2 separate regions of the Homo sapiens genome follow, and region 1 is linked to region 2. Evidence: fine-mapped QTL for protein levels in blood plasma. Region 2 holds a variant in brackets. A gene starts in the other region. All regions are shown on one strand. Distances are between the middles of the regions.

Region 1 (5,374 bases), 170 Mb after region 2:
TTGGCCATCTGAAAATACAGAGACTTAACACATATGGAGACCTGTGGCTTCCTCGGGCCAGCCTCAGTTTGAAAGCAAGGGTGAGATCTTTGTCAGACACTCACGGGACCTGTGCTGCCCATAAAGGAAGGGGCCCTTCTCTCAGGACAGCACAAGGGAAAACACCCACAGCCGGAAAAGAAGGTGTGTCTCAGCATGACGGAGGCTGTGTGCAAATTATTCCTTGTGCCAATATCAGGAGTGTGGATCTGACAAACAAAAGGCCATGTCATTGGCTTAGTGTCTCTGTGGAGTCTGTAATGGTCCTTTTACTTACTTGAGTCCTTTCTAAGATGGATTTTGTTCATTTTCCACTAAGATTGCAGAAGCTGCACGTGGCGTGGCAGTTTATGAATTGGGTCCCCTGGCAAGGCTCTGAAAGACAGCTGGAGTGGGGGTGGGCTGTGTGTGTGAAGCCGCTGCACAGAGCTGGAGTCGGCTGTCCACACAATCACGTCTATGTGAGAGCCGGCAGCCTGCAAACTGCTTCCCTGCAAGGGGAGACACATGCCAGGGGAGGGCCAGAGAATTTTGTTAATTCTGTTTATCTTAGAGACTGTTTTTTTGTCTGCTGGGGGAAATAAAAAACAAATACATAACTTCCTTGCTTGTGTGCAGTCTGATTTTTTTCTCTCTCTCATGCCCTCATTTTTATTTCTCCGAAGTATCTCTCCCCTTCAGTTTGGGGCATCAGTTTATGGCATTTTTCCGTACATGTGTATATAGTATCTATGCACAAAGTCAGAGATATAAATGTCTGTTTTAGACTCTTTTGGCTTTAGTGTTCTGTGGAGGTCCATGAGATATCAGAGATCTCATTTTCTTTCTGTTAACATAATTAGCAGAGCTCTCTCTGTGCTCAGAGTGCATAGCTGAGTCCCGCATAACCAGCAATAACAGTGCATTCTTAGCAGCCTCCCTGGATAGTTTGCTAAATTCTTTCTGAGAGCCTCTCGCTGCCTTTACAAAGGTTATAGCTGAAAAACAAACCAGAAACTGGGAATCCAACTCTGTGAGCAGAGAGAGGGCTGCACATTCTATTATCGCACGGATAGAGGCTCAGGTTCATGCAGTCGCGTTTGGAGTCCTGGCAATTTCAGATGAAGGCCGTCCTTAGGAAAATCAGCTATCCCAAGCCCAGGCAGTCTGGGTTAGCCGAGGTTTTTGTTTGTTTTGTGGAGTTTTTGCTGGTTGGTCTTTTGTAGATGCTGCAAATCACAAATGGGGAACCTGAACGACACAAGCTTTTTCTTCTCCGTATCATTTTACCTGGCCAAAAAGGCAAAAGAAGGGGAAGGTGGCATTGCTAAGTCACAGGGAAGGATATGACCTAAACATCCCCCCTTCCCCAAGTAATCCGGGAGCACCACTCCCCTCTGAGGACCCCACAGGTACTTTCACAGTCCAACACACTGAGAAACAAGCCCACAGGGTGCCAGGATGACATGACCACAGAGAAAAGGGACAGAAGGAGTTTGGGACACATGCACGGACACCTGTTGCTTTTGCAGACTTGAACTTAGAAAATATGAGCCTCATTAGAATTTCTCTTTCTAAAATAAACGACCACTTTTAATATCGTCAAATATCATGTACTGCTATAGTTCTCTGTCCTCCGCACTGAGAATCCAAAACAGGTCCTTGGGATAACTTTTGGGAAACAATACCGCCACGAAAACAAAAGTCTTCTCAGCCAAGAACACAGATTTTTTTTATCTACCTTTGATGTCCCAAAGGACTAGAGAATCCAGAGCATTTAAATAAGACTCCAATGCCAGGAGCTCACTGTTCCCTGCTGGATGCCAGCCCTCCCCTCCCTGCCCAGAAGAGGACATGGTACTCACCAGTCATTAGGGTATAATAATTGGGATACGAGAGACTAGGGAAGTCTGGAGTCAAGTAATCCACTTTTACTCCCCTGCTCACAATCTCTTTGAAACCAGGCAATGACTCCAGCGCCTCATCACTGATGTAGTCTGAGCGAAAACCATCCAGCAGAAACACCAGCAGCTTCCGGCGGGCAGAGGCTGGCTGGGCCAGGCCCAGGGCAAGGGCCAGCAGGAGGGTCCCAAGCTTCACTGCCATGCTGCCAGGAGCCTGCCAGAGCCCGGCTGGCACAGCTGTCGCCTTGCAAAGACTGAGGATGGAGAATCTGTAGCTATTCTCTCTTCCAGGGGCTGGACCTTGAGCCGCTGGCCTTCCTGAGTCAAGTTCACTTGCAGAATTTAAAGGAACAGCACCCCCTTTTCCACACATCTATGCTCACCCTTTACTAGAAAGTCCAGAGACCGACTCCTTCAGATAAACTGGGTTCCAAACAACCCAGAATTAACACCAGGGGAGAGAGTTCAAACTTATTATTTTTGGTGAACGTTCCAGAAATACAAGCACCCACAGAGGTGGAATTTTAGAAGATGACAAAGTCAACACTAACTTTGCAGTTGAGCTAACCAAAGGGAGGAACCAAGGAAAAGGGCAAGATTTTAATTTGCTGTTATCCCACATCATGGCCTCATTTAAACTCTTTTTCACTTAGAATTTAGTAACGCAAACCTCTGGACTCAGTGCATAAACAGGAAACAATACGTTTCGGTGGGCCCATTTGTAAACTTCCCAGCTGTGTCTCTGTAGACACAGCACTTAAAAAAGTTATTTGTCTATGTCTTGGCCACTTATGTTTTTATATGCAGTGTTATTATTTGTTATTATTTTATTTTTCAAATGTGATTTAGCTGCTGGTGCCCATAGGAGGAGGTGGTTCGTAGAAGAGCCCTAGAGCCAATGAGAAGCTTCCAGAGTTGGACAATGGGAAATCATTACTGGCAGAATGGTCTGAAGCAGCATTGCCCCAGGAGGATGGAAATGAAATAGAGAGCTGGAGATTGAGAGCTTGAGATGGAAAAGCAGAGCTAGAAATTACCATGCAGGCTTTGGGACCGAGAAGACTAGGCGGAGTGGAAAATAGGAGGAGGTTAGTGACAGGGAGGCAGATGTGAGCTGGGGAGCAGACAGAGTTAGCACAAAGTACCCAGAGTCCAGGGGTTCCCTAGAGTGGCTCCGTCATGCTACATAAAATTAAACAACACAATTCATGTGAAGGCTTATAAAACATGGCTGAGTGCAGTGGCCCACTTTGGGAGGCCAAGGTGGAAGGATTGCTTGAGGCCAGGAGCTTGAGACCAGCCTGGGCAACACAGCAAGACCCCATCTCTATAAAAAATTAAAAAATTAGCTGGGCCTGGCGGCACGTGCCTGGTCCCAGCTACACAGGAGGCTGAGGTGGGAGGATTGTGTGAGCACAGGTGGTCATATCTGCAGTAAGCTGTGATTGTATCACTGCACTCCAGGCTGGGCAACAGAGTGAGGCCCTGCCTCAAAAAAAAAAAGACATAAAACATGCATGGTCCATAGCAAGTGTTGAACAAATGTTAGATGTTATTCGCATTATAACATTGCTTGTCTCCTGAGGAAACTTGCAGGCTCTGGGCAAACTTTCCAGGGAAGGAAGATAGACACCAGCCACACCAGCCACTCTCAGTCAACCCCAAAATCCCTCTTCCACCTCTGCCCTCTGCTTGTGTCTTTTCTCCTTCTCTTTTTCTGTTGTATTTGAGTCAAGCCCAAACACAGGATCACCATGTCACTTTTTAAATTATGCTGCAAAAGAGAAACACATTGGCCAAATTACCACTCCCCTCTCAGGGGACTTGGCCAAGGATCAGAATTCTTTTTTCCAATAAGAGGTAATGCTTTTTATAATTAAATTTAAATTTTTTTCTTATTAAAAAATAAGGAAAAGGGGAGTTTATCCTAAAAGGTTGTTACTTTGAAAACAATGTTATTCTTTTTTCTTTGAGCTGTGTGGTATTGTTGCTATAAACAGAGAAAAAGAAAAGAGAGAAGAAAGAGGAAAGGAAGGAAGAAAGAAAGAAAAAGGAAAGAAAGAAAAGTAAACGAAGGAAGGGAGAAAGAGAAAGAAAGGGAAGGGAAGAAAAGGGAAGAAGGAAAGAGAACAGAAGGGAAGAGAAGAAAGGAAGAAAAGGGAGGAAGGGAAGGAAAGGGGAGGGGAAGGAAGGGGAGGAAAGGGAAGGGAGGGAAAGGAAGGGAAGGGAAAGGGAAAGGGGAAGGGAAGGAGGAAAAAAAGAATAGAAGGGAAGAAGGGAAAGGAAGAGAAAAAGGGAAGAAAAGCGAAGAAGGGAAGGGAAGGGAAGGGGAGGGGAAGGGAAGGGAGGGAAAGGAAGGGAAGGGAAAGGGTAAGGGGAAGGGGAAGGGAAGGAGGAAAAAAGAATAGAAGGGAAGAAGGGAAAGGAAGAGAAGAAGGGAAGAAAAGCGAAGAAGGGAAGGGAAGGGAAGGGAAGGGGAGGGGAAGGGAAGGGAGGGAAAGAAGGGAAAGGAAAGGGAAAGGGGAAGGGGAAGGGAAGGAAAAAAAAGAATAGAAGGGAAGAAGGGAAGGGAAGAGAAGAAGGGAAGAAAAGCGAAGAAGAGAAGGGAAGGAAAGGGGCGGGGAAGGGAGGGGAGGGGAGGGAAGGGAAGGGAAGGGAAAGGAAGGGAAGAAGGGAAGAAGAGAAGGAAAGGGAAGGTGAGGGGAATGGAAGGGAGGGGAGGGAAGGGAAGGGAAAGGAAAAAGGGAAGAAGGGAAGAAAAGGGAAGAAGGGAAGAGAAGAGATGGGAAGAAGGGAAAGGGAGGGATGGGAAGAAGGGAAAGGGAGGGATGGGAAGAAGGGAAAGGGAGGGAAGGGAAGAAGAGAAGAGAAGGGAAGGGAAAGGGAGGAGAGGGAAGGGAAGGGAAGGAGAAGGGAGGGGAGGGGAGGGGAAAAGGCAGATGCAGCCTGATGGGTTGATGGGCCTCCTAGACACTGAACATCACATGTGCTAGAAGGAGAACTTCTTCCCCTGGTGAGGGCCCATGGAGGTAGGAGGCCCAGATAGCTGTGCTCTGTGAGTTCCTGAGAGGCTCAGGGATTGTCTGGACTGCGAAGCTGGAGTCACAGTGCAAGTCCAAGTGATTTACTTTGGGATGGCCTCTGAGCTCACTTTGGGATGGCTTCTGAGCTCACTTTGGGAGAGGTTAAGCACTCCAAATGTTAAAGATGAATATAAGAGGGACTTCCACTTTTCTCCACTACTAACAAGGGTACACTCAAAATATGGCTCCCTGAGTGCCTCATTGAGCTGTTGTGGGTGTCAACTCAGAAGTAACTTGCTTCAGATTAGCGTGTTCACAGGTCCCCAGAGGCTCCCAAGGCTCCACAAAGATTGTTGTGATGTATCTGGGGTGGGGTCATCATTGTTTTATGATAATGTTTATGATCATATTGTGTTATGACCATGTTTA
Region 2 (5,374 bases):
ATTGCCTACAGGGATATTTTATTAACTCTTCCAGTCTTGAGTCCACTGAGGTCTGGGGATTAGGGAGGCAGGATCCAGGCATGGGAAAGCTTCTGCTGTGAAGTAGTGAGAGAACATCTGCAGAGAGTGAGCAAGGCCTGAAGGGAGGTTGTTATTGAGGTGACAATACACATGAAAGACATATTTTGGAACATGTTGGTGTCCCTCTGGGACCCCTCGGAGAGACTCTGTTAAAACTCTGTATTTTCTGCTAATCAAATAAATGATCTGGGGCTTGGGCCTACACTAGTTGTTTTTTTGTTTTGTTTTGTTCCGTTTTGTTTTGTTTTGTTTTGTTTTGTTTTGTTTTGTTTTTGAGACAGAGTCTTGCTCTGTCGCCCAGGCTGGAGTACAGTGGCTTACTGCAACCTCTGCTGAGTGGAGTACTCAGCTTGAACCGCCTCCCAGGTTCAAGCAATTCTCCTGCCTCAGCTTCTCAAGTAGCTAGGACTACAGGCATGCGCTACCATGCCCAGCTAAATTTTTTTGTATTTTTAGTAGCGATGGGGTTTCACCATATTGGTCAGGCTGGTCTCGAACTCCTGACCTCAAATGATCCGTCCACCTTGGCCTCCCAAAGTGCTGGGGTTATAGGCATGAACCACCATGTCTGGCCCACTGGTTGTTTAAAGGAAGGGTTTCTCATAGGTTAGAGAACTTGGGAATAGCCAGGCGTATACTAGGGGTTCATAGAAGTTTGACTTTGGTCTCAGTGTTTTTCCAGATATACAGTTCCATTTAACCTTGGCCTTTGGAAGGCTCAATAGCCAAATGCCCACCTCAATGTCATATCTGGCACCTTTGAGCTATTATAAACATTCCTCTTATACTTCTACTCCAGGGAAAGGCTGAAATCTGTGTGCATGCAATGAAAACTGAGATGCACTAGAAATTTTGGTGGGATCTTACTGTCTTGAAAACCAATTACCTAGCTTTATTACCACATTTCTAGATCCAAAATTTAAGGACACATTTGTCTCAAAGCATCGTATAAAGTGTCAAGTCCATGCAAAAGTATAGGAAATTTAAAACTGCAAGAAAGGGCAACAATCTTAAGAGCACATTTTTTTTTTTTCTTTTTCTTTTTTTTGTGACAGAGTCTCGCTTTGTCGCCCAAGGCTGGAGTGCAATAGCGCGATCTCGGCTCACTGCAACCTCTGACTCCCAGGTTCAAGGGATTCTTGTGCCTCAGCTTCCCGAGTAGCTGGGATTATAGGTGCCTGCCACTACACCTGGCTAATTTTTGTATTTTTATTAGAGATGGGGTTTCACCATGTTGGCCAGGCTGGTCTCAAACTCCTGACCTCACGTGATCTGCCCGCCTCGGCCTCCCAAAGTGTTGGGATTACAGGCATGAGCCATTGTGCCTGGCACTTTATAAAATATTCAGGAAGTATTTTCTTTCTTCCTTTCCAATCTGTATGCCTTTTCTTTCCTTTTCTTGTCCCATTGCTAGGTCTTCCAGTATGACATAGGAGTGAAGAGAAGTTGTCTTTGTCTTATTTTCCATCTTAAAGAGAAACCATTCAGTCTTTTACCATAGTATGCTGTTAGCTGTAGGATTTTTAAAGAAAATATTACCTTTACTGTGTTAAGGAAGTTCTTTTCTAATCCTAAATATTTGAGAATTTCCATCATGATGTGACTATATGGGTTTTCTTATTCCATCTGCTAAAAATTACATCCACTGATTTTTAAATGTTGAACTAGCCTTGCATTTCTGTAACCACATATATATTTATGTATATATGGTTTTGATTTTGCCAATATTTTGTTAAGGGTTTTTGCATCTATATTCATGGAGAAATATTTGGTCTGTAGTTGTTATTTCTTGTACTGTTTTTATCTGGTTTTGATAGTAGGATAATATAGCCCTCTTAAAATGAGTTAGAGAAGCATTTCCTCTGCTTCTGTTTTCTGGAAGACGTTGTGGAGAATTGGTATTTTTTTCTTCAAATGTTTTGCAGAATTCACCACTGAAATTCTAGTGCTTTACTTTTTTTAAATTTTAATTATCCATTTGATTTTTCAATAACTATAGGTCTATTGAGATTATCTATTTCTCCCATGTTAGTTCTTATAGTCTCTTTCAATGAATTAGTTTATTTTATCTAAGTTATCAAAGTTGTGTGGAAGTATCTTCTTCAAGTGCTCAAAACATTAGTTTATGAAATTGCTTCCATGAAATTGCATCAGCGTCATGAACCAAATTTTCCTGTCAAGGAGGTGAGGAGGCAGTAAGTCATGACCTTAGTTGCTTACTAAAAACGAAAGGCGTTTGAGGAAAGCCTGATAATTCATTGACAACATTACCATCAACCACACCTTACCATTCCTAGGAGAGCTGGCCAAACGGATCTTCCTCTATCAATAGCGGGAAGTGGGTATCTATTTGGTATTAACAAACATGCAAATTAGTGATTTAGGAGCCACACAGCCCCTGATGATGAAGACACATGATTCCTACACTATAATTTCAAGATGTAACATTGAATACTAAGTTGTTTTAACAATAACAAATTTTAAATTAATATATTTGGGATAAAATATCAGATTTATTTTTTCATTGCATAACATCAATCTATGATTATAATATTCACTTTTTGCCTTGGCTTTGACCAGAGACAGATTTTACCATTTGCCAATTTGGAATCTGGTCAAATGCATATTTACCGGGCACCTCTAGAATATACATGCATGGACACACACACACTCCTCATAATCTCAATGTCTCCAAGCCTCACCAGGCTGTATTTATAATCACATTGAGAATAATGCCTGTGGCTTGCAAGTAGTTCTTCTGTTTATATACTAGGCCCTTTGCATCCCAAAGTGCATGTTAGTTGGGTCACAGTGGATTTATAAACACAACCTCACAGAGCATTTGCAGATCCCCAGTGCTCCTGTGTGGTCCCCAATCTTGAATCTGACTTGTTTTGTCAAAATCCCACTTCTCTTTTGAATTCTCTTGCAGGGTGCCCACAGCACTCTTGGTAGCTGTGTAAATTCATTCATCTCTCAGTTCGTAGAAAGACAAGAGAATCACAGTTGAAGTTTGTCTGCAATGTTTGGGACTCATTTCACATCTGTATCATTCAGGGCTTATAATTAGCTTTCTTG[C/T]CTCTAAGCAAACACTAAACAGTGGCTTAAACAAAATCGATGTTTATCTTTATCTTATGTAAATGGAGTCTGGAGGCGGACTGCTCAGGGCAGAATGATGACTCCATAGCCATTGTGGATTTGGTTTCTATTTTTTTGCTTCCTCATTCTGTTGTACCCTCAAGGTCACTACCACATCCAAGAAGGCTGTTGGGGCTTCACAATATCTGCACTGGGGGTCATGCTACTGTCTGAATGTTAGTGTCCCCTCCAAACTACATGTTGAAATTCTAGCTCCAAAGGTAATGGACCTCCTAAAGGCTCCACCTCCTAATACCATTACCCTGGGGGTTAGGAGCCATCATGAATGGGATTAGTGCCCTGATTAGGTCGTGGGGGGCAGAGCTACCATAAACAGGATTAATGCCTTGATAAGAGAGACCCCAGGGAACTTGCTCACCCCTTCCACCATGTGAGACACAGCTAGAAGGCACCACATGACAGCAATATGGAGGCAGAAAAGAAGTTAAGACCAATTAAGATGGAAGACTGATGGTCACATAGGTAGAATCAGGAGGTCCATGGGGTAGATAGATGTGGCCCTGCTGATGATAGTAGGTGTGGACTTGCTGCGATATCCACGTGGTGCAGCCACAGCTGGTCAGAACAGCCACCTTAGAAGCCTCAGCTGAAAAGTACTGCTTGAAGGCACAAGAGAAATCCAGCATGTCTAGAGAGGAGAAAAGACACAGAAGAAAACTCTCCCTGGGGGTACATCCAGGTTTGAAGGGCAGAGGGGAAGTATAGCAAATGGAACCAGTGAAGAAGACAAAGAAACAGCAGCTGGAGAAATAGGGGCAAAGTAGGGCAGTGTAGAATGGCCAAGATCCAGGGAGGAGCATGGCTGGAGGGAAAGGGAGAGAGAAATGGAGCGGAAGCACCGAGAGCTCGAAGTCAAATGGAGCAGACAACGGCAGAGCAGGCCAGTGGGTCTAGTGTTTAGAAAGCCACTGGCGCCCAAAGAGGGTGTTTTTTTTTTTTGAGGTATAACCAGTGGGACAGATGGTAGTGTCTTTAAGTCTAAGTCAAAATGAGTAATTAAAAAAAAAAGAGTCAGCTGTGAAAGTAATTTTGAAGGTTATAGCCAGCCCTTGCATTTGCATGATGCTTGGTGCTTTCCCAGCAGGACAAGCTCCATAATTTGCAGGGCCCAATACAAATCAAAATGTGGGACTCTTACTGAAAAATTAAGTATTTCAAGACAGTAACAGAACATTAAAATAAGGGCAGAGTCATTCTGAGTCTGGGGCCCCATGCAACTGCATAGATTCCACACACCCATGAAACCCACTTGCTTCCAAGCAGTTTTCCTCTACTCTTTAATTTCAGAGATGAGTTCTGGAGATGGAAAAATCCATATGATTCATTTGCGATAAATATCTTTCTTGACTTCTCAGCATGGAACACCCTTCTTACTTGGGGGATAGAGGGATTTCCCATTGTGTTCATCCAGGTGAGAAGCATGATTCCCTCTACTAGGCAAATCCTCTCCCAACCCCGAGCAACCAGGTTTAGCTAATTAGGTGCTTCTTCCCAGGATTTTGAGTCTTGAGGGAGAAGTGCAAAGATGCAGGATTATTAGAGACAATTTCCTGTGGCGGTGGCAGAATGGAGAGGCCATGGCAGAGGTGAGGGTAGGGCAGGAACAGCAGTGAGTGTCCAGTGGAACCCAGGGGTAGTGTCCCATCCCATATTTCCCTGGGACCTGCTTGGGCATTCTCTGCTGCTGAGCCTTTCTTGACTGTTGCCCATTCTCCACATACAAGTTTATGTTGGGGAAAGGGTCCCTAAGACCACCCTTGAGCTTAGTAATTCACTAGAAGGATCACAGAACTCAGCAAAGCTGTCATGCTTACAGTTTTGATTATTACAGTGAAAGGACACAGACTAAAATCAGCAACAAGAAGAGGCACGCAAGGCAGGGTCCAGGGATAAGCCTCCAATTGTGCTCTCCCAGTGGCATATGTGGACAGTGATTACCTCTTTCAACAATGATGTGTGGTAACACAATGTTGGCAATGCTGATGTGTAGCAACACAAGTATTGCCAACCAGTGAAGCTCACCAGAGCCTTGGTGTCCAGAGTTTTTGCTGGAGGTCAGCCATGTAGACACAGCTGACAACCCACATGGCTGAGATTAGTATCCAGTCTCTCCAGAGGTTGAACTGTGGTCCCA

Alleles and levels. Alleles are on the strand shown, and positions count from the first base shown. The strength of an association depends on the size of the effect and on how common the allele is.
For the plasma level of the protein whose gene starts at base 2,178 in region 1, C is the low allele of the variant in region 2 and T is the other (moderate association).

The links. PIP is the chance, under the fine-mapping model, that this variant and not a neighbour inherited with it causes the effect. The UK Biobank Pharma Proteomics Project read protein levels with antibody pairs (Olink). The fine-mapping took linkage between variants from a reference panel, not from the people measured, so its PIPs are less certain.
Region 1: it holds the start of ENPP6, and the variant in region 2 is fine-mapped to the plasma level of the ENPP6 protein (UK Biobank, PIP 0.91).

Annotation. Positions count from the first base shown.
Region 1 is chr4:184,215,696-184,221,069 of GRCh38, forward strand. ENPP6 (ectonucleotide pyrophosphatase/phosphodiesterase 6) reads right to left here and starts at 2,178. Exons shown (of 8, transcript NM_153343.4): 1 at 1,884-2,178. The coding sequence starts at 2,124.
Region 2 is chr4:16,130,693-16,136,066 of GRCh38, forward strand. No RefSeq gene overlaps it. Among named protein-coding and RNA genes, the nearest start is that of PROM1, 49 kb to the left of the region's middle. The variant C/T (reference allele first, on the strand shown) is at 3,160.